Linked DNA regions of Homo sapiens. The protein of the gene in region 1 interacts with the protein of each later gene in a biochemical or structural test. Each region holds a gene or a part of one and is shown in the gene's direction. Other genes may lie near its edges. The genes, in order: POMGNT1, GOLPH3L and GOLPH3.

Region 1 (7,111 bases):
TAAAGAAGAAAATAAAGCAGGGGATAATGAATGATAGAGGGGAGGGGACATTTTAGAAAGAGAAGGCCCCTGCAAGGAGATGATATGTGAGCAGAAAGCTGAGGAATTGAGGAGTGAGCCAGGTGAGTATCTGGAGGAAGAGCATTCCAGGTGGAAAGAATGGCAAGTGCAAAGCCCCTATAGTGGGAAGGTACACGGCATATTTGAGGAACAGCAAAGATGCTAGTCGAGGTGGAGCAGAATAAGGGAGGAGAGTAGGAGAGTGGTTGGAAAAGAAGGCAGAGAGTGGCGGGAGAGAGAGGTGCAGATCGTGTGGGTTTGTGGAAAGGACTTATTAGCTGGATGACCTTAGAATCTCTAAGCCTTCAGTTATTATTTTATCTGTGAAAGAGAGTAACCATAGAGGGTTATTGCAATAATGTAATGAGCTATTTTAAGTAAAAGGTTGCTACATAGTTCGTGCTCTGTGAGGCCAGGTCTCCTGGAACCATGCCAGTCAGGCTAACTGCCTTCTCTGGTCCCCCAGGATGAGGGCTCCTTCCACCTCAAGGACACAGCCAAGGCTCTGCTGAGGAGCCTGGGCAGCCAGGCTGGCCCTGCCCTGGGCTGGAGGGACACATGGGCCTTCGTGGGACGAAAAGGAGGTGCCGGCATCAGAGGCCATCCACTCTGTAGTATCAAGAGCCTGGGAGGAGCAGAACCCTAGGAGATGGGGTGGGGTGGGGAACAAATAGGAGCCAGTGGCAGTGGGTTGGATGAAAGTAGGCAGGGAGATGGGAAAAAGCCCCCAAACTGGTGTCTGGGCCCCCATGGCCCTCATTCCTGCCTCCTGCCAGGTCCTGTCTTCGGGGAGAAACATTCTAAATCACCTGCCCTCTCTTCCTGGGGGGACCCAGTCCTGCTGAAGACAGATGTGCCATTGAGCTCAGCAGAAGGTGGAGTTAGTGGAGCATGGATGGGGCAGGGCCTGGGCTGGGGGTGGGCATTTAGATCTCTCTGTGGAGCTTTATTCCTTTGATTGTGTGCCTGGGGCTCTTCAAACCTTGCTGGCCCCATGCCTCCATGACAACCGCATCCTTCCCTCAGAGGCAGAGTGCCACTGGGCAGACACAGAGCTGAACCGTCGCCGCCGGCGCTTCTGCAGCAAAGTTGAGGGCTATGGAAGTGTATGCAGCTGCAAGGACCCCACACCCATCGAGTTCAGCCCTGACCCAGTGAGTGGGGCCTTAAGACAGTGAGGTTTGGACTCCTTCCCAGCTCAGCAGGGGGGCCCCAGGAATGATCTAGGTTGGGCTTTCCCTACCTGAGCCTGGGAGAGAACCAGGGGCAGGATTTACACTGCGCTCTGAAAGACAGGGCTGGGGTGAAGGGGCAGGCCATGTGAGTAAAGCTCAGCGCTAGAGTTGGGCTGAGTGTGTGGAGAGCCCAGAACAGGGAAGATCCTCTATCCCTTCCCTGTCTACTCCAGTCTGCACCTACCCTCACCTGAGAAGTCTTCCCTAGGTGGGGATCCCAGTTTGAAGGGGGAATAAGGCAAGAGCTAAACGCTATTTCTCCCACAGCTCCCAGACAACAAGGTCCTCAATGTGCCTGTGGCTGTCATTGCAGGGAACCGACCCAATTACCTGTACAGGTAAGCCTGGGAATGGGCTATACCCAGCACTGAACAGGAGGGTGCTTAGGTCATCTACCTCCAGGAGGAACTCTTGAGGTGGGCAGAAAGGCAATAGATTCTAGACGCATTCACCTCTGTGGGTAAGCATAGGGACTCTGGGCCCAGCTGTAAACACAGGGGAACCTGAGTTGAGGGGTGATGAAGTGACCCTAACCTATCCCTGGGCTCCCCAGGATGCTGCGCTCTCTGCTTTCAGCCCAGGGGGTGTCTCCTCAGATGATAACAGTTTTCATTGACGGCTACTATGAGGTGAGCAGGACTTGGGGGGTGCCTCGGGTGGAGTACAACATGGAGCAGCAGTGATTGCCAGGGACGGGCAAGGGAGACCGCCCAGGCAAGGGCTGTGAAATGTGAAGGCCTTGGATTGCAGAGGTGGGCAGAGGGAAAGTGACCTCACATGGTGAGCAGTGGCCATGTCCCCCAGGAACCCATGGATGTGGTGGCACTGTTTGGTCTGAGGGGCATCCAGCATACTCCCATCAGCATCAAGAATGCCCGCGTGTCTCAGGTACTGCATAGGCAAGTGGGGATGGGGCAGACACCTGGCTCTGCCTTCTACCCTAAAGCTCATGTGCCCTATTCCCACCCCACTCCCAGCACTACAAGGCCAGCCTCACTGCCACTTTCAACCTGTTTCCGGTGAGTACTAAGGATACAACTCTTGGGCCTGGGAGGGGGGAAACATGGGCATAAGGTCTGGGCCTGTTACGTGGCAAGCTCTTCCCCTCACTGGGCCTCATCCTTCACATCTGGAAAATGGGGGTAATGCTGCCTGCAAGAAGAGGGTTGGGGGCAAAGGAGATCACAGGATGGAGAGACCCCTTTGGGACCATGATGTCCCATTCCCCTTCTAGGAGGCCAAGTTTGCTGTGGTTCTGGAAGAGGACCTGGACATTGCTGTGGATTTTTTCAGGTGAGGGGAGTCTCTAGGTTTCAGTTGAGGTCCCTCAGTCTGCAGGGAAAGAGTCAGTGAGGTGTCCTAGAGAGCTTTCTGGAGGACATGAGCTCACAAGTGGGGGCGAAGCCTGGGCAAAGGTAGGATGGCAGGTGTTGGGGCTGCTGTTGAAGGTACAGTGGATGAATGGAGACAGTGGGGATTTGGGGGAAGGAGGTACTCCAGGAAGGAGGTGCTCCTGAGACCCAGCTCCAGCAATTCTAGCATCTCTGTGTGACTAGATTTATCCTTGTCCCTCCCTGAACTCTTTGACCCTGCCTCTCTCAGTTTCCTGAGCCAATCCATCCACCTACTGGAGGAGGATGACAGCCTGTACTGCATCTCTGCCTGGAATGACCAGGTAGGCTGGAATGACCAGGGTTTAGCAGGCGAGTTTATGAGGCCTCAGCTAATACCTCCCACTATGGCACCCTGTCCCCAGGGGTATGAACACACGGCTGAGGACCCAGCACTACTGTACCGTGTGGAGACCATGCCTGGGCTGGGCTGGGTGCTCAGGAGGTCCTTGTACAAGGAGGAGCTTGAGCCCAAGTGGCCTACACCGGAAAAGGTAACTGTCAGGGTAGGGTGAGGGGGCTGGAGTCCCCTACCAACTCGAAACATCTTAACCTTCATCGTGGTCCATGTCTGCCAGCTCTGGGATTGGGACATGTGGATGCGGATGCCTGAACAACGCCGGGGCCGAGAGTGCATCATCCCTGACGTTTCCCGATCCTACCACTTTGGCATCGTCGGCCTCAACATGAATGGCTACTTTCACGTGAGTGGGAGGCAGGGAGCAGGGCACAGTGTGGCATGACAGTCAAGAACAAGAACATGGACTCTGAAGCAATCTTAGCTCTGCTACTTGCTAGCCATGTAACCTTGGGGAAAGAGCTATCCTATTTTTGCCTCAGTTTCTTTATCTGAAAAATGAGGATAAAGGGCTGGGCGCGGTGGCTCACGCCTGTAATCCCAGCACTTTGGGAGGCCGATGCGGGTGGATCACAAGGTCAGGAGATCGAGACCATCCTGGCTAACATGGTGAAACCCCATCTCTACTAAAAATACAAAAAATTAGCCGGGCCTGGTGATGGGCGCCTGTAGTCCCAGCTACTTGGGAGGCTGAGGCAGGAGAATGGCGTGAACCCAGGAGGCGAAGCTTGCTGTGAGCCAAGATCACGCCACTGCACTCCAGCCTAGGTGACAGAGCGAGACTCCATCTCAAAAAAAAAGAGGATAAAATACTACTACCTCACTGGGTTACGATATTTTGAGGTTTAAATGAGTCAATATATGTAAAGTGCTTTGAATTATAAACATATATAAGGGTCAGCTGGTATTGTTTTTATTTTTACTATTTTTAGCACTAGACTGTGGGTGTCTGGGGAGAGTATTTCTGCCTCTAAGTACTGGTCCAGCCCTGCAATCTCTGCCCTTTCCTGTTTTGGCAAGTGCTGGAGCCTATGCTTCAGCCTGAGGAGAACAGGGAAGTCCTTAGGTACCGCCAACCCACCTGGCTGCATTCAGAGGACCATTCCCCAGTTACAGCAAGGGAGGCCTTGAGCCAGCCCAGCCCAAAGGAATGAATAGCGTCCAGCTTGGAACCTCCTAGAAGCCAGAGGTCCCTCAGAGGCTGACTAATACGCGAGCCCCATTCCTCTCCCAGAGAGGGGCAGGCGCTTCCCTCAGGTCACTCTCAGTACCAGAGTCAAAGTAGTTTTTTCCTTCCCAGCCCAGCCCGTCCCTTTGCCCACCACCTCCTGCAGGGCCTGTTTCTGACATCTGTGGCTCTAGAACAGCAGGCCCAGGGAGAACTACAAGAGGCAGGGACTGCTAGTTCATGGGTCTGTGGTGCAGTAGTGTGAGCTGCCGTGACAGCATGAGCTCTCCAGCAATGGTGGAGGCCAAATTAAAGCTAGTAAGAGCTTGCTGAGGATGCTGCAAAGAGGATGGAGAAGACGGTGGGAAATTAGAGGGCTCTTTACAGGTCTAGGACTTCATTTGTGTGTCTTATAGATGTCTGGCTGGTCAGCAAGTGGGTGTGGGCCAGACAATGTGAGGTGCTGATTTTCACTCTCATACCCACTCCAGGAGGCCTACTTCAAGAAGCACAAGTTCAACACGGTTCCAGGTGTCCAGCTCAGGAATGTGGACAGGTTGGGGCTGGCAGCAGGGCAAGGGGTGGATATCTAGGAGATTTGGAGGCCAGTCCCTGAAAGTCCCTTCCAATGCTGGGCCTGTGTGTTTACTCCAGCCCTGCGGCTACAGATTCCCATGTGACCCCTTGCCCTGCTCAGTGCTACCCATGGGACCTGAGGGCCTGCCCACTCCCCTGACCCATTTCTCCCTCCTCTTCAGTCTGAAGAAAGAAGCTTATGAAGTGGAAGTTCACAGGCTGCTCAGGTATGGCCTAGGACAATTGGGGTGTAGCAGGGAGCAAAGAGTCAAATACTGGGGATCTTGGCCCCATAATTTACAGGGTCCTGTGCAAAATGAAAATCAGGGCCCTCATCTCAAACATTAGGAACTTCAGGCCGGGCGCGGTGGCTCACGCCTGTAATCCCAGCACTTTGGGAGGCCGAGGTGGGTGGATCATGAGGTCAGGAGATCGAGACCATCCTGGCTAACACGGTGAAACCCTGTCTCTACTAAAAATACAAAAAATTAGCCGGGCGTGGTGGCAGGCGCCTGTAGTCCCAGCTACTTGGGAGGCTGAGGCAGGAGACTCCAGCCTGGGCGACAGAGCAAGACTCCATCTCAAAAAAAAAAAAAAAAAAAGAACTTCAAGGTGGCAACAGCAGAGCATTCAACCAAGTACAGGGTCCTGTGGGACACACCCATGAAGTGGGCCCTGTCTTGGCTATATTCTCCCACCCTCTACTGCAGTGAGGCTGAGGTTCTGGACCACAGCAAGAACCCTTGTGAAGACTCTTTCCTGCCAGACACAGAGGGCCACACCTACGTGGCCTTTATTCGAATGGAGAAAGATGATGACTTCACCACCTGGACCCAGCTTGCCAAGGTGCTCCAATACCATGCCCACCCTGGAGAACCCCTCCCCCTCACACACATACTGCCCCAAGATCCAGGGAGCCTTTGCTCTGGAATCTTCAACCTCAGAACCTCCTCTTTATACTCTTAGAACACCTCTTCCAACCTCCTTGTCCAAATTCATATTCTAAAAGATGCTATCTCTTACAAATTGAGGTGGTTTCTGAGGAGGGGTGGGGGCTGGGCCAAAGGGTCGTCAGTGACCCCTCCCTACAGCTCTCTGACCCATGTCTCTGTCTCCATCCCACCCTCACTAGTGCCTCCATATCTGGGACCTGGATGTGCGTGGCAACCATCGGGGCCTGTGGAGATTGTTTCGGAAGAAGAACCACTTCCTGATGGTGGGGGTCCCGGCTTCCCCCTACTCGTGAGTGACCCTTTTCTGCCCTGGGAAACAGGAGGCCTAGTGAGATCCAGGGATATAGCTAATGGCTTCTTCTCTATACATTCTTGTATTATTTTCCCAGAGTGAAGAAGCCACCCTCAGTCACCCCAATTTTCCTGGAGCCACCCCCAAAGGAGGAGGGAGCCCCAGGAGCCCCAGAACAGACATGAGACCTCCTCCAGGACCCTGCGGGGCTGGGTACTGTGTACCCCCAGGCTGGCTAGCCCTTCCCTCCATCCTGTAGGATTTTGTAGATGCTGGTAGGGGCTGGGGCTACCTTGTTTTTAACATGAGACTTAATTACTAACTCCAAGGGGAGGGTTCCCCTGCTCCAACACCCCGTTCCTGAGTTAAAAGTCTATTTATTTACTTCCTTGTTGGAGAAGGGCAGGAGAGTACCTGGGAATCATTACGATCCCTAGCAGCTCATCCTGCCCTTTGAATACCCTCACTTTCCAGGCCTGGCTCAGAATCTAACCTATTTATTGACTGTCCTGAGGGCCTTGAAAACAGGCCGAACCTGGAGGGCCTGGATTTCTTTTTGGGCTGGAATGCTGCCCTGAGGGTGGGGCTGGCTCTTACTCAGGAAACTGCTGTGCCCAACCCATGGACAGGCCCAGCTGGGGCCCACATGCTGACACAGACTCACTCAGAGACCCTTAGACACTGGACCAGGCCTCCTCTCAGCCTTCTCTTTGTCCAGATTTCCAAAGCTGGATAAGTTGGTCATTGATTAAAAAAGGAGAAGCCCTCTGGGGATGTCTTGTGATTGTGATTTTGTGTGTCAGGGGGGTGCTGGAGGGAAGTGGTGGAGAGAATACTTGTGTTGGATGGTGAGTTTTCCTTACTGTCCTCCACAGAGTTTATCTTCCATTTGGGGCCATTTGGCCACCAGGGGATGCCTGAGTCTCAAACTCCAAGGTTTTTCCCCAACTCTACCCTAGGACAGCTTGACTTTAGCCCCGCCCTACTTGAGGCTTGGAGCAGCCACCCTACCTCTTCCCCACCGTTTAACCACCAGCCGGGTTCCTGCTTATCTTGCCTGGGCCGGGCACCTGTCCCC
Region 2 (6,536 bases), about 100 Mb from region 1:
GGGACTACAAGTGCATGCCACCACACCTGCTTTGCTTTTATTTCTGAAAGATAGTTTGCCAGTTATAAGATTCTTGGCTAATAGTTTCTACCCTCACTTTGAATAAGTCTACTCATTCTTCTGGCCTGCATTTTTTCTAATGGGAAGTCAGTTATTAAGCTTACAAAGTTCCACTGTGATGTGATAAGTCATTTTTCTCTTCTGCTTTCATGATTTTCCACTTATTTTTGGTTTTCAACATTTTTACTATGATGTTGGATATGGGTCTCTTTGTGTTCATCCAACTTGGAGTTTGTTGAACTTCTCCAATGTGTGGTTGAGTGTTTTTCATCACGTTTGGCAAGATTTTAGCCATTACTTTCTTGAGTATTTTTTCTGCCTCTTTCTCTCCTTTCCTTCTGGTGCTTCCATTTTATGTATGTTCATCAAGTTGATGATACTTTATATTTCTCTGAGTCTGTTCATTTTTCTTCATTCTCTTTTCTCCTTGTTCTTCATATTACATAATTTCTTTGATCTCTAAGTTTGCTAATTCTTTATTTTGCCAGCTCAGATCTCTTGTTGGATCCCTTGAGTGATTTTTTCATTTTGTTTGTTGTACTTTTTTTTTTTTTTTTTTTTTTGAGTTTCGCTCTGTCGCTGAGGCTGGAGTGTAATGGTGTGATCTTGGCTCATTGCAACCTCCGCCTCCTGGGTTCAAGTGATTCTCCTGCCTCAGCCTCCTGAGTAGCTGGAACTACAGGCACACACCACCATACCCGGCTAATTTTGTATTTTTAGTAGAGACAGGGTTTCACCATATTGGCCAGGCTGGTCTCAAACTCCTGGCTTCAAGTAATCCGCCTGCCTCAGCCTCCCAAAGTGCTGGGATTACAGACGTGAGCCACCATGCCCAGTCTGTTGTACTTTTAAACTCTAGGATTTCTAAATGGTTTTTTTGTTTTTGTTTTTTTGAGATGGAGTCTTGCTTTGTTGCCCAGGCTGGAGTGCAGTGGCACTATCTCAGCTCATTGCAGCCTCCACCTCCCAGGTTCAAGCGATTCTCTGCCTCAGCCTCCTGAGCAGCTGGGATTACAGGTGCCCACCATACCTGGCTAATTTTTGTATTTTTAGTAGAGATGGCGTTTCGCCATGTTGGCCAGGCTTGTCTTGAACTCCTGGCCTCAAATGATCCACCCACCTCAGCCTCTCAAAATGCTGGGATTACAGGCGTGAGCCACCGCACCTGGTCTAAATGGATCTTTTTTATAATTTCTGTCTTTATTTATATTCTCTATATGATAAGTCATGGTTTCCCTTAGGTCTTTGAACATATTTATAAAAGCTGCTTTATAGTCTTTGTAAAGTCCAACATTTTAGCGTTCTCAAAGGCAGTTTCCATTGCCTGCTTTTTTTCTTCTGAATGGGTCAATGGGTCACAATTTATTCTTTGTATACTTCATACTTTTTTGTCAAAAACTGGACATTTTAGATAATTGTGCAACTCTGGATACTACACTGCAGCTGTCCCCAACTTTTCTGGCACCAGGACAGGTTTCGTGGAAGACAGTTTTTCCACTGGGGTGGGAGACGGGGGGATGGTTTCGGTATGATTCAAGTGCATTGCATTTATTAGAGTCTCACAAGGAACATGCAACCTAGATCCCTCCCATGTGCAGTTCACAATAGGGTTCACACTCCTGTGGGAACCTAATGCCACTGCTGATCTGATGGGAGGCAGAGCTCAACTTTACTCACCCATGGCTCACCTCCTGCTGTGCAGCCGGGTTCCTAACAGGCTGCAGACCAGTACCAGTCCATGGTCCAGGGGTTGGGGACACCTGCTATACTGGTTTCTCCTTCCCACTAGAGGTTGATTGTGTTGTTTGCTTGGTAATTTGTTTCCTTAGTGACTTGCCTGCAGCAGCTCTCTGAAGTCTGTTTCTCTTGTAGTGTGCAGCCTCTGATGTCACTGCTCATATTTTCTTGTTTTTATCTTTTGGCCTAACTCCCTGTGTGTTGCCAGTGGGTCAGTAGAAGCCACTTATTAGTCAAAGGTTGTGCTTAAGACCTTTTAGCCAATTAAATTTTTTTATCCTTTACTGTTGGATATGTGTGTGTGATTTTGACATAGCCATCACAAATCAGGGAGTTTACATTTTGCCCCACATTCAGTGAGGAACTAGCAGCTTGGAAGTTCCCTCTCTGATTTCTTCTCGGAGAGAGTACATCCTTGGACATACACCAGGGATGTATGTGATTTTTTTAATTTTATTTTTATTTTTTATTTTTCATTTCTTGAGATGAAGTCTCACTCTGTCACTCAGGCTGGAGTGCAGTGGTACAATCTCAGCTGACTGAAACCTCCGCCTCCTGGGTTTTCCTGCCTAAGCCTCCAAGTAGCTGGGACTACAGGCGTGTACCACCACACCCGGCTATTATTATTATTTTTAAGCTTAGCTTTCTAGGAGTTGCCTCTGAGTTAGGGTAGCTTATTGTTCAGCCAGTGTTGGTTCAGTGGTTGTGCTTTAGCCCTTGGTGCCAGTGAAGCATCCACCCTTTTTTGATAGATCTATGTGTGGTCTGGGGAATACTCTCAAGTCAAGCCCCACGTCCTGCTCTGATTGCTCCTGAGTGGGTGCAGCCTGGTGCAAGCACACAGTCTTCCCAACCCCCAGTGTTGGTCATGATTCCAGAAGGACTTTTCTTGGCTTTCTGTTTCTCTGGTTCTGCCTGTTAAACTTCTGGAGGCTTTGCCATTTGGGTTTGTCATACCAGTGCCATAGAGCTAGCAGCACCTTGTAATTGCTCTCCACCAAGATCTCTATGGTTTTCAACACCCTTAGGCATAGAATTCTCCACACTGTGTTCCAAATAAAGTCAGTCCTCTCAGGCAGAGCTTTGGAGCTCTTCATTCTTCAGGCCTTCCTTCCCTCCTGGGCAGAACTTCTGCACAAGGGCCCACTTCTCCTACAGTGATACCCACCTGCTGTATGAGTAGGTGCTGGGGGAAAGAGGTGTTAGCCCCTGGTCTTCTTGACTTGCCTTTTCTGTTGCAGAATCTCTAATCTACGAACAAGCTGGAATGGGAGCAATTGAAGTCTAAATATTGTCAGCCTACCAGGCCTGGGATAGAGCTTCTGCTCTACAAATAGGGTAGGGAACCTCAGTCCTCTTAGCTTCACCAGCAAATAGAACTTCCACAATATAGAGTAGAAATCATCTGGGAGAGACTGGTGTCCTAAATAGAATTTGAAAAATACATAAATAATTACAGTGTCACAGAGGTCACATAAGAACAGAAATAAAGTCTATAAGCTCTAGCAATATGGAAGTCCTTGGTGACATTTTTTGAAGCTGGTTTAATGTGAAATGTGGTTGGAGTCAAAGCCAGATTATAAAGGACTAAGGATTAAATGAATTGAGGAATGAAGATTATGCTTTTAAACATTTTAGCCATTCAAGTTTCCAAACAACTACATGTTTCATTTTGCTTTTCTCTTTCAGTTCATTATGTCCTATTTCTTTTTTCTCATAGGTGAGACCTGGAACCCCTTCAAATTACAGTACCAGCTGAGAAATGTACGAGAGCGCATCGCAAAGAACCTAGTAGAGAAAGGTATTCTAACCACTGAGAAGCAGAATTTCCTGCTATTTGACATGACTACTCATCCAGTGACCAATACAACAGAGAAACAGCGACTAGTGAAAAAACTTCAAGATAGTGTACTAGAGCGGTGGGTAAATGACCCTCAGCGTATGGACAAGCGAACACTAGCACTCCTGGTGCTAGCCCACTCCTCTGATGTGCTAGAGAATGTCTTCTCCTCTCTGACAGATGACAAGTATGATGTGGCAATGAATCGAGCCAAGGACTTAGTAGAACTGGACCCTGAAGTGGAAGGGACAAAGCCTAGTGCCACAGAAATGATCTGGGCTGTGCTGGCAGCCTTCAATAAATCTTAAAGCCGGCAGGTGGATTTCTCCTTTTCCCCTGCTGGCTGGTGACTGTCAGAGACCCCATCACTGAGTTTTGTGTGATGAGATGTTTTCATCATTTTTGTTTCCTTTTCTTGAATCAGACTTGTGATTTGGGGAGAGCAACTTCAGGGCTTCTCCATAGACCTTGACCATTATAAGCAGACCTTATTTCTCCCTACACTTCCACTCCATAGGTAAATAAACTGGGTGAAGCCACACACACCCAATGAACATTTTCTCCCATTTGGTGGTTTAGTTTCACCCAGTGTGCTTTTGGATAAGCAGAAATATCTAAATGGGATTTTGAGTTCTCCAGCTATAGAATGTGAATGAGATAAAAAGTGAACTATCTATTATATTTTTCTGAGTTTGTTTTCTATCATAAATACATGTTTTCACAGCCTTTGTCTCTCAGACTCTGCTAAATAATGTAGCTTATTGAAATAACTGTCGCTGAATAAGGAGCAATGAGAAACAAAACTAATTTTTGGAGCAGATGGTCTCTGGAATTGCATATCCTGCTAGTGATTTTCTCATCTTTCCTTTTCTAACCTAATGAGAATGTCCCAGATTCAATTACCTGGATGTCAAAGTCCTAGAGCCAGAAATATATTCTCTCATCCCTCTTAGCATTCTCTTGCTCCCTCATTCACTAGGGCAAATGTCTAAATGAAGAAAAGTCTCTCTCAACACCTCGTTCATGCAATCAGCATTAGAATTTGTAAGGAAGGAAGGGGGGTGGCATGAAAATTTCCATTCTTGGGGTATATGACTGTCCTGTTTCCCCCAGGCCACTTTTTTTTTTTTTTTCTTTTGAGACAGGGTCTTGCTCTTGCCCAGGCAGGAGTACAGTAGTGCAATCACAGCTGACTGCAGCCTTGACCTCCAGGGCTCAAGGATCCTCCTGCCTCAGTCTCCCAACTAAGTGGGACTACAGGCACGTGCCACCATACTCAGCTTTTTTTTGTTTGTTTTAGACAAGAGTCTCGCTTTGTTGCCCAGGCTGGTCTTGAATTCCTGGGCTCAAGCAATTCTTCCACCTCAGCCTCCCAAAGTGCTGAGATTACTGGCTTGAGCCACTGCACCCACCCCTCCAGACTACTTTAAATGTCTCTGCTCTGACTGAATTGAAGGAATTGTAAGTTTCAGTTGCTGAATATATCAGTATATCTGAACTCCAGATCTTTTTATTTCCTATTTTTGGCTTCCTACATAAATTAATAAAGTCTGTCTATATTTAAGGTTTCTGGGAGTAGTTTTGTCTATATTTAATCCATAGATGTGCTCCTAGTCATCAGTCTTATTTCAGTAAAACCATCTTTCTGGCCAAATCTCTAACACGTTTTTTACTTCAGTAGTGAGGGCAATGAGAAGCTTTATTAAGAAAGATCCTATTTAAAGGGCTAATTTGGTATTGAAAGCATGCTGATATAAAGTCCAGTATTTGAGGATATAAAGAGGATGTGCACTGAGCTGTGCTGATGTTCAGCATTTATTATACTTTAATGGGATAGTGCTTCTTGACCATTATAGAACAACAAACTGTCAAAGGGTTAATACAGATGACCCAGACCTGACATTAAATCCTCTTGATTAGAAATAATTAAATGAATTATTTATTCATTTCTCTCCTCTGCCAAATCTACTTAGCCCCACAAAAATGCCCCAGCTCAGTTAACATTTTTTTGTTTTTCACTTTAGGTATCTCTTAGGCAAATAGAGATATAAATTGTAATAGGAAACAGTCTCTAAATGTGAGGCTGAATACAGCTTCAGTCTGGCTCTCTAATAGGACAAAAGCCAGTCCATGTGTTGTCTCTAACTGATTTAGCTTTTTCTTTTCTTTGAACAATTCGGCATGAATTGAAACCAGGTTTTCCTGTGGAAAGTTATAGCTTGATTGGGAGATAGAAGTTGAATTGAGTTCTTTCTTGCAACTCTTAGTGTTTATTTTTATATCTCAGTAAGACGAGGATACCTTCAGTTTGAATCTGCATAATGTTCACTGCCAAACTCCTTCTCATTTAATGCTTATGGCCTTCACATTTCTGTATAATAAAGATCAATTATCAGCTCTCTGGTCTCTCTGTGCACAATTTTATAATTTAAATTGTTTTAATTGGAACTAAGGACTTTCTACACAAGGCTATTAATGCCTCCCCCTTTACACTAGCATACCAGCTTGTTTTATCCTATGTAGAAAATGAGGGATACAAAAACAATTGTAACATACATAGGCTGAGGGGCAGGACATGTCAAAAGCTGACCACATGAACACCAGCTAATACTATAAAGCCTAAATAGTGTCTCCATCTCAATCAAAATAAATTAGCCAATTATACCATTATTACCATGAAGAGAATGAATATGATCTGTTCTACTAATATCTACTTGCAAATGACACCTGAATTTAGGAGTTGAAAATCTTAAGTTCCAAATGTAGGTGACATGCCTGACTATAACAGAGTTAACATGTAAAAATGTAAGTGTGCTTATAATTGGCTTATTGTTCTCCCTTTCTTTATCTATAGCACAAGGGACAATAATACATTTGTTTATTAGGATTGTTTATACTT
Region 3 (7,111 bases), on another chromosome or scaffold:
TATTACATTTATTAACTTAGGAAGAACTAATAATAATGCTGAGACTTTGTATATAAGAATGAAATATCTTTCTATTATTCAAGTCTATTTTTAAGTCTTTCAAGAGACTTTAAACTTTTCATATAGGTTTTGCCATGGTATTTTTTGTTCTTTTTGTTGCTGTTGTAAAGGTCTTTTCAATTATATTTTAACTTTTTAGTATTTTAACATGTGTATTTTGTTTGTATATGACAACTGGTGTTTAATTTTATATAATCTGGCTACTTTACTAAACTCCTATCTATAGTAATTTTTCCATTTACTCTTATGAGTTTTTCTAAATATCCAACAATATCACCAGCAAATGCAGTTTTACTACTTTTTTTTTTTTTCTTGAGACAGTTTCACTCTTTTGCCCAGGCTGAAGTGCAGTGGCTCACTGCAGCCTCTGCCTCCCAGGATCTAGCGATTCTCCTGCCTCAGCCTCCCGAGTAGCTGCTATTACAGGCATGAGCCACCACACCTGGCTAATTTTTGTATTTTTAGTAGAGATGGGGTTTTGCCGCCTTGGCCAGGCTGGTCTTGAACTCGTGACCTCAGGTGATCTGCCCGCCTCGGCCTCTTAAAGTGCTGAGATTACAGGCGTGAGCCACAGTGCCCAGCCTTACTACTTCTTTAACAGTTCTTATATCTGTAGATACCTTTTCTTGTCTAGTCTTTTTAATCTGCTTTTACCTGAAGTCACCTTCATTCTCTTGATTAGTTATTTTTGTCAAGAACTTTTTGATTCTTAATTTTTGACATAATCAAAATTTCATGTAAGATTTCAGAAGTGACTTTATAGAATGTTTTTTTGTAACAGCTCTGAGATATGATTCATATGCCATATAATTGTCATTTGAAGTGTACAATTCAAGGTTTTCAGATTTGTACAACCACCACCATAATCAATTTTAGAATATTTTTATCACTTCCAAAAGAAAGCTCATCCCCTTTAGCCATTACCTCTCCCTTTTCCCATTTTGCCAGCCCTGGGCACCCACTGTATTAATTATCTTACTGCATAACAAAACATAGCAGGTTAAAACAACAAACATGCTATTCCGTGTATGTGCCTGTCTGCCTCTCTGTCTCTGTATGTCTTGGTTTGCCTCACATTGCATCCTCTCTCATTTCTACTCTGCATTTGTCTTCTGTTTTCCTTTCTGTTACCTTCATTCTCTGCATTTGTACCCAATGGCCAGTAGCTTCTGAATCCACACAGCCAGTACAGCTCCAGTGCCATGCCCATATAACTGATTCAGTATGGCAAGTTCAGATACTCAGGAGGGAGACTTAATTTGTTCATCCTGGTCCATTTAGATTTGGCAAGTACAATCACCTTTCTTTTTTTCTTTTTTTTTGAGATGGAGTTTCGCTCTTGTTGCCCAGGCTGGGGTGCAGTGGTGCGATCTCAGCTTACTGCAACCTCTGCCTCCCAGGTTCAAGCAGTTCTCCTGCCTCAACCTCCTGAGTAGCTGGGATTACAGGCATGCGCCACCACGCCTGGGTAATTTTGTATTTTGTATTTTTTATTTTTTTTGAGACAGAGTCTTGCTCTCTTGCCCAGGCTGGAGTGCATTGGCGCGATCTCGCCTCACTGCAAGCTCCGCCTCCTGGGGTCACGTTATTCTCCTGCCTCAGCCTCCCGAGTAGCTGGGACTACAGGTGCCCACCACCACGCCCAGCTAATTTTTTATATTTTTAGTAGAGATGGGGTTTCACCGTGTTAGCCAGGATGGTCTCGATCTCCTGACATCGTGATCTGCCCACCTTGGCCTCCCAAAGTGCTGGGATTACAGGCGTGAGCCACCATGTGGACCTGGCCTATATTTCTATTAGAAAGCCATTTCCAAAACATTGGTCACACCAGAATTCAACCTTATATAGAAAATATAGTGTTTTTAGTGATTTCATTTTGAAATATTTTGTACATAAAAACAAAATGAAACTATTTTGAGTACTTTATGCCTATACAGACTACTAGTAACTGAACATTCATATAACGTAGTATGTTTTGTAAAATGTTTAGCGGTTGCAAACTGGTTTGCCAGATATGTTTTGTTTAGTAAAACTTGAGTTGTAATCCTTTCAAAGATGGAAGTAATATATAGAAACGGACGTTTCTGCCCTCTTGAAAAAGATGTGGCAAGAGCAGGCCCACATTTTACATGGCAACAGTTGATAAGGGCTAAGCTGTCTTCCCCAGATAGATGGAAGAGGACATTGTCCAGCTTGCTGCAATCCACACCTGGGTCTCTTTATTCAGTCATGTTCTTTGTACTTTCTAAGTAACTGAGTTTGCAGTCCTCCATCCCCATTCCATTCTAATTGTACATAATTAAGTAATTACTAATTGCCAGGGGTTGTGCTTTATATATATTATTTAATCTTCACAACTTGTTTTATATGAAGAAAACTAGTCTCAGAAATTTAACTATATAGTATGTGGTAGAGCTGGAGTTGATTTGAATCGCCAGGTGTTTGTGCGGTCTGGGCTCTTGAGCACAGTTCTTTACTACTTCACAAATATGTTTTACTTTGTGGTTCATAGTTATTTTCATGGAGAGTTTTTAGTTCTTCTAGTGTTTTGCCTCTGTCAAATTACTGCCACTATCATAACTATTGCCTTTTAAGCTTGAACAACTATAACTATAGTTGATCAGTAAGGAAAACCTTACTTATCTCCTTGCCACGAGTTTTCCTTTACTATATACAGAAAAGCCTAAAGAAAATAAAGATCACCATAATCACCAGACATTACTGCTGCTAAAACTTTTCTTCTAATCTCCCTAAAAAATGGGACTATTTTCTGTCTCTCTACACACACACACACGATTTCATAATAATTTTTCATGTTTTGTAATAACCTCTGCACCAGGATTTCTTTTCTTTTTTTTTTTGTTTGAGATGAAGTCTTGCTCTGTCACCAGGCTAGAGTGCAGTGGTGCAATCTCGGCTCACTGCAGCCTCCGCCTCCTGCACCAGGATTTTTAAAACTGATTTTCATAGAATTGTAATATTCTGTAGGCTGTTAAAAGTATACTGTAAATTAAAATGCTTCAAGGTCAGGAAAGTTTGGGAAGTGCTGAGTTTATTCCCTTTTTTTTGCTTTTAGATTGTTTTTGTGTTTTACTATGATAATGATGTGATCAATATATTTGTACATATATTTTTGTGCACAGTATTTTCTAACTAAAGGCCCATAAGAATTGTGTCAAAGGATGTGAACATTTATAAGTTTTTTTGTAAATACAAACCTATGATATACATACGTATTAATATTTATGTAACTTCAAAATAAGATTACACTTTAGATCAAGCTTGTCCAACCCGTGGCCTGTGGGCCGCAGGTGGCCTACGGCTTTGAATCTGGTCCAGCACAAATTTGTAAACTTTGTTAAAACATGAGGTTTTTTTTTTTGTTTTCTTTAGCTCATCAGCTGTCATTAGTGTTAGTATATTTTATGTGTGGGCCAAGATAATAATTCTTCCAGTATGGCCCAGGGAAGCCAAAAGATTGGACACTCTGCTTTAGATAATATAATTTTTTATCTGTTTCTCATGTAGAATATATATTATGAGCATTTTCCCATGTTGTAAATGTTTTTAATAACATATAAGGAAAATCTTATACTTCCGGTTATATCCCTGTTATGATCTTTATACAAAATATTTTTATTACATTTCATTTTGGGTTACCAACCTTTTGAGTTCCTTCTTAACAAAAAGCTTCTGGGTAAGTAGGCAGTTGAGAGCAGAACAGTAGCTCTTAACTGGAATGGTGAGAACTCTTCTCAGTGTTGGCAGTTTTAGGGGACTTAATAAACAATACCCTTTTCTACCATTCAAATTGAGCCACTTGAAAGAATAAAGGGAATCAGGCAGATGGAGGTCTGGTAGTGTATGGCCCAGCCTACTTGGGGTGTCTCTGTCCTCTCCCATCCTTATATTTTAGAACATAGGAACTAATTATGACTACAGTCATAAGCTGCTTGATGCTGCCAGTTACTAACCTTCCCCACATATTTTATCTTTTTTTTTTTTTTGAGATAGGGTCTTACTCCTGTCATCCAGGCTGGAGTGCAGTGGCATGATCATGGCTCACTGCAGCCTCAAGTTCCTGAGCTCAGGTGATTCTCCCACCTCAGCCTTCCAAGTAGCTGGGACCACAGACGGGTGCCACCATGCCCGGCTAATTTTTGTATTTTTTGTAGAGATGGGGTTTCACCATGTTGCCCAGGGGTCTGGAATTCCTGGGCTCAAGCAATCTGCTTGCCTCTGCCTCCCGAAGTGCTGGGATTACAGGTGTATGTCACTGCGCCTGGCCACCCTATGGTTAATTTTTGATCCTGCTTTTATGACATGGATTTTAGCAGGAGGGTATCAACATACTGTACTTTTCTGTTGTTTGGTGTGTCTTTGTTGGCTTCATTTATCTTTGGAATATTGCTGACGAGTCCCAGAAGCTGTGGTACAGAACTGTCCGTTCCCATTCATCTACTTTCCCATGTGAATCCAATTCTGTTTAAGCATGTGTCTTTCAGCGATGATGCCTAAAGCCATTCACTAAATTTAGATCTCTGAAGTCTGTTACTAAAGACCCCATTTTGCTAATATCTCTGGGTATGCCATTACTCTAGGAGCAATTGAGATTGAGACATATTTTAGTTCTCTGCTGTCAAATGTAAGCCTCCAGGTACTGTTCAGCTGGAGTTTGCAGGCTGTAGGGCTGTTCACGTCCATTATTGCTTTATGAGGTGTTCTCTGTTGTTTACAGTTTGTAGAGGCTCATTTAGGAACTCTGTCTATATGTCCAGGCCAGTCAAAGCCAGATATCTGTAACTTTAATTTCATGTGGAATTCATTCTCAGGCTTCCTAGGGCTTTAATTTCATGGACACAGAAGCCACGCATTTTACCTAACCTCTATAAAGTACTGGTATTATTAGCCACTTTGCTAAATCTCTGGTAATCTTCATTTGATCAGGCCCCGACCCTAAGTTTAAAGTGACTCCCTAAAATCCAGTCAGTGTCTGCTACTTACACCTCACATTTAAATTGATCTCTTAACACTGATGTTTTTGTTTATCCGCTTGTGCCTCCTTTAAATTGTTATTTTCCCAAAGGTCACATTCTCAGAAGTGGTAGCTTGGTGAGGCGAATTTAACTCCTTGTATCAAAAATGAAGTTTGATGGACCTCAATGGTCAGTCATCTTCTGAAACACAAGCTCACTACTCTGGCCTGACAAAGTGCCAGGATTGACCTTGGAAAAGTGCCAGAGGTGAGGGCCAGGCCTTCCTAATCCTGGGCCCTCCATTCTTTAGAGATTCAGTTGGCCTGTTCTCCTACCAAAATTGTGTTACCCTGTTCTGAGCCTTAATGAGAGTTATTTATAGCTTCTGCTGTCTCATGAGAACTGGGTATCTTAAATTGATAGCTGGCAATCCTGCTGGCAAGATTTGTGGCTTTATAATTTGAACAACCCCAGTTGTTTGCTGTTAAAGTGTCCTGACCTCATCTGGTGATGCCTGCTTGACCAGTATCCCAGATCTCTAGATGTCTATCAACCTCCTTATGTCTGGCCGTTCTTCCACTGTGGATGCTGCCCTTACATTCTCTCTTGGGGCCAATCTGATTGTTATACTGTTTATTATTGAGAATTTTAGGCCTATAGCCATCCATTTGTTTGTGGGCGCATGTGTGTTTTTCTAATATCTTCTTACAAAATTAACAGTGTGTGTATTTAAGAGACAATGTCGCACTGTTTTGCCCAGGCTGCAGTGTGTTGGTGTAATTATTGCTCACTGTAGCCTTGAACTCTTGGACACAGTGGTCCTCCTGCCTTAGCTTCCTGGGTAGCTGCGACTACAGGTGTGCAGCACCACACCTAGCTAATTAATTTTTTTTGGTAGAAACAGGATCTCACTATGTTGTCCAGTCTGGTCTCAAACTCCTGGGCTCAAGCCATCGTCTTGGCTCAGCCTCCCAAAGTGCTCGGATTAACCTTGTGGTTTTATCCTAAACAGCAATAAATGAATGGTATTCTAATTCTCTGTGAAGCTAACTTGGCTAGGTTGTCTTTGCCTGAGCTTCTTAACTTGTCCACATAAATAAATCACTATAATCTGGGGTTAACTGAGTATTCCTTGGAGTTTGCAGGGTTCTGAAAGAACCTAATAAACACACAGCTTGGTGAAATGTGAGTTATGTTTCTAAACTTATGACCTCTAAAGTTATTTGTTGTTTGTATGTAAGAATAAGTGGTGGAAAGATAAGCCCCCGAAAATTCTCGATTAGTAATTTATGTTAATTGTATTTTTTCAGTATATTATTATAGAAAGACAGGAAAGGTAAAAGGCACCAAATATGACTTTGGCTGATAATATTTCTGTTTTTTACTCTGAATTCAAGGTAAATTAGCTATTTTGTTTTATTTCTTCTTCTTTTTTTAATAGGGTTACACATCATTTTGGAATGACTGTATATCATCTGGATTACGTGGCTGTATGTTAATTGAATTAGCATTGAGAGGAAGGTTACAACTAGAGGCTTGTGGAATGAGACGTAAAAGTCTATTAACAAGAAAGGTAAGAGGAGTGCTGAGTAACATTCTTTTTAAAGAGGTTGTACTGCTTAAAATGTATGTTTTTACTAGTAGCCTTCAAAAATTAAAGTGGAAGTTGATATTAAAGTTGTCTTTCTTCAATTGTATTTCCATATCTTTTTTGCATTCTTGGTTTCCTGGTTCTTTCACCTACAATGAGTAATGTAATTGATTGTTAAGGTAACCGGCCACTGGATCTTACAAATTCAGAAAGATTCTAGACTTCATTTGCAGCTTTTATTTATTTATTTATTTTTAATTTTATTTTATTATTATTATTTTTTATTGATCATTCTTGGGTGTTTCTCGCAGAGGGGGATTTGGCAGGGTCACAGGACAATAGTGGAGGGAAGGTCAGCAGATAAACAAGTGAACAAAGGTCTCTGGTTTTCCTAGGCAGAGGACCCTGCGGCCTTCCGCAGTGTTTGTGTCCCTGGGTACTTGAGATTAGGGAGTGGTGATGACTCTTAAGGAGCATGCTGCCT

What was found.
Region 2: the proteins of POMGNT1 (region 1) and GOLPH3L form a complex in vitro, tested with the Homo sapiens proteins (one study listed by BioGRID).
Region 3: the proteins of POMGNT1 (region 1) and GOLPH3 form a complex in vitro, tested with the Homo sapiens proteins (one study listed by BioGRID).

What each region holds. Positions count from the first base shown.
Region 1 is NC_000001.11:46,188,377-46,195,487, reverse strand, and holds the end of POMGNT1 (protein O-linked-mannose beta-1,2-N-acetylglucosaminyltransferase 1), read left to right. Parts: intron 1-526; coding exon 527-644; intron 645-836; coding exon 837-935; intron 936-1,086; coding exon 1,087-1,214; intron 1,215-1,562; coding exon 1,563-1,633; intron 1,634-1,848; coding exon 1,849-1,924; intron 1,925-2,099; coding exon 2,100-2,183; intron 2,184-2,272; coding exon 2,273-2,314; intron 2,315-2,529; coding exon 2,530-2,588; intron 2,589-2,897; coding exon 2,898-2,970; intron 2,971-3,051; coding exon 3,052-3,180; intron 3,181-3,264; coding exon 3,265-3,390; intron 3,391-4,703; coding exon 4,704-4,768; intron 4,769-4,970; coding exon 4,971-5,015; intron 5,016-5,498; coding exon 5,499-5,634; intron 5,635-5,920; coding exon 5,921-6,030; intron 6,031-6,130; coding exon 6,131-6,218; coding exon of another isoform or gene 6,219-6,246; 3' UTR 6,247-6,507; coding exon of another isoform or gene 6,508-6,769; 3' UTR 6,770-6,805; downstream 6,806-7,111. UniProt on the Homo sapiens protein: Participates in O-mannosyl glycosylation by catalyzing the addition of N-acetylglucosamine to O-linked mannose on glycoproteins.
Region 2 is NC_000001.11:150,645,730-150,652,265, reverse strand, and holds the end of GOLPH3L (Golgi phosphoprotein 3-like), read left to right. Parts: intron 1-3,038; coding exon of another isoform or gene 3,039-3,085; exon of another isoform or gene 3,086-3,134; intron 3,135-3,517; coding exon 3,518-3,945; 3' UTR 3,946-6,036; downstream 6,037-6,536. UniProt on the Homo sapiens protein: Phosphatidylinositol-4-phosphate-binding protein that may antagonize the action of GOLPH3 which is required for the process of vesicle budding at the Golgi and anterograde transport to the plasma membrane.
Region 3 is NC_000005.10:32,143,247-32,150,357, reverse strand, and holds part of GOLPH3 (Golgi phosphoprotein 3), read left to right. Parts: intron 1-6,477; coding exon 6,478-6,609; intron 6,610-7,111. UniProt on the Homo sapiens protein: Phosphatidylinositol-4-phosphate-binding protein that links Golgi membranes to the cytoskeleton and may participate in the tensile force required for vesicle budding from the Golgi.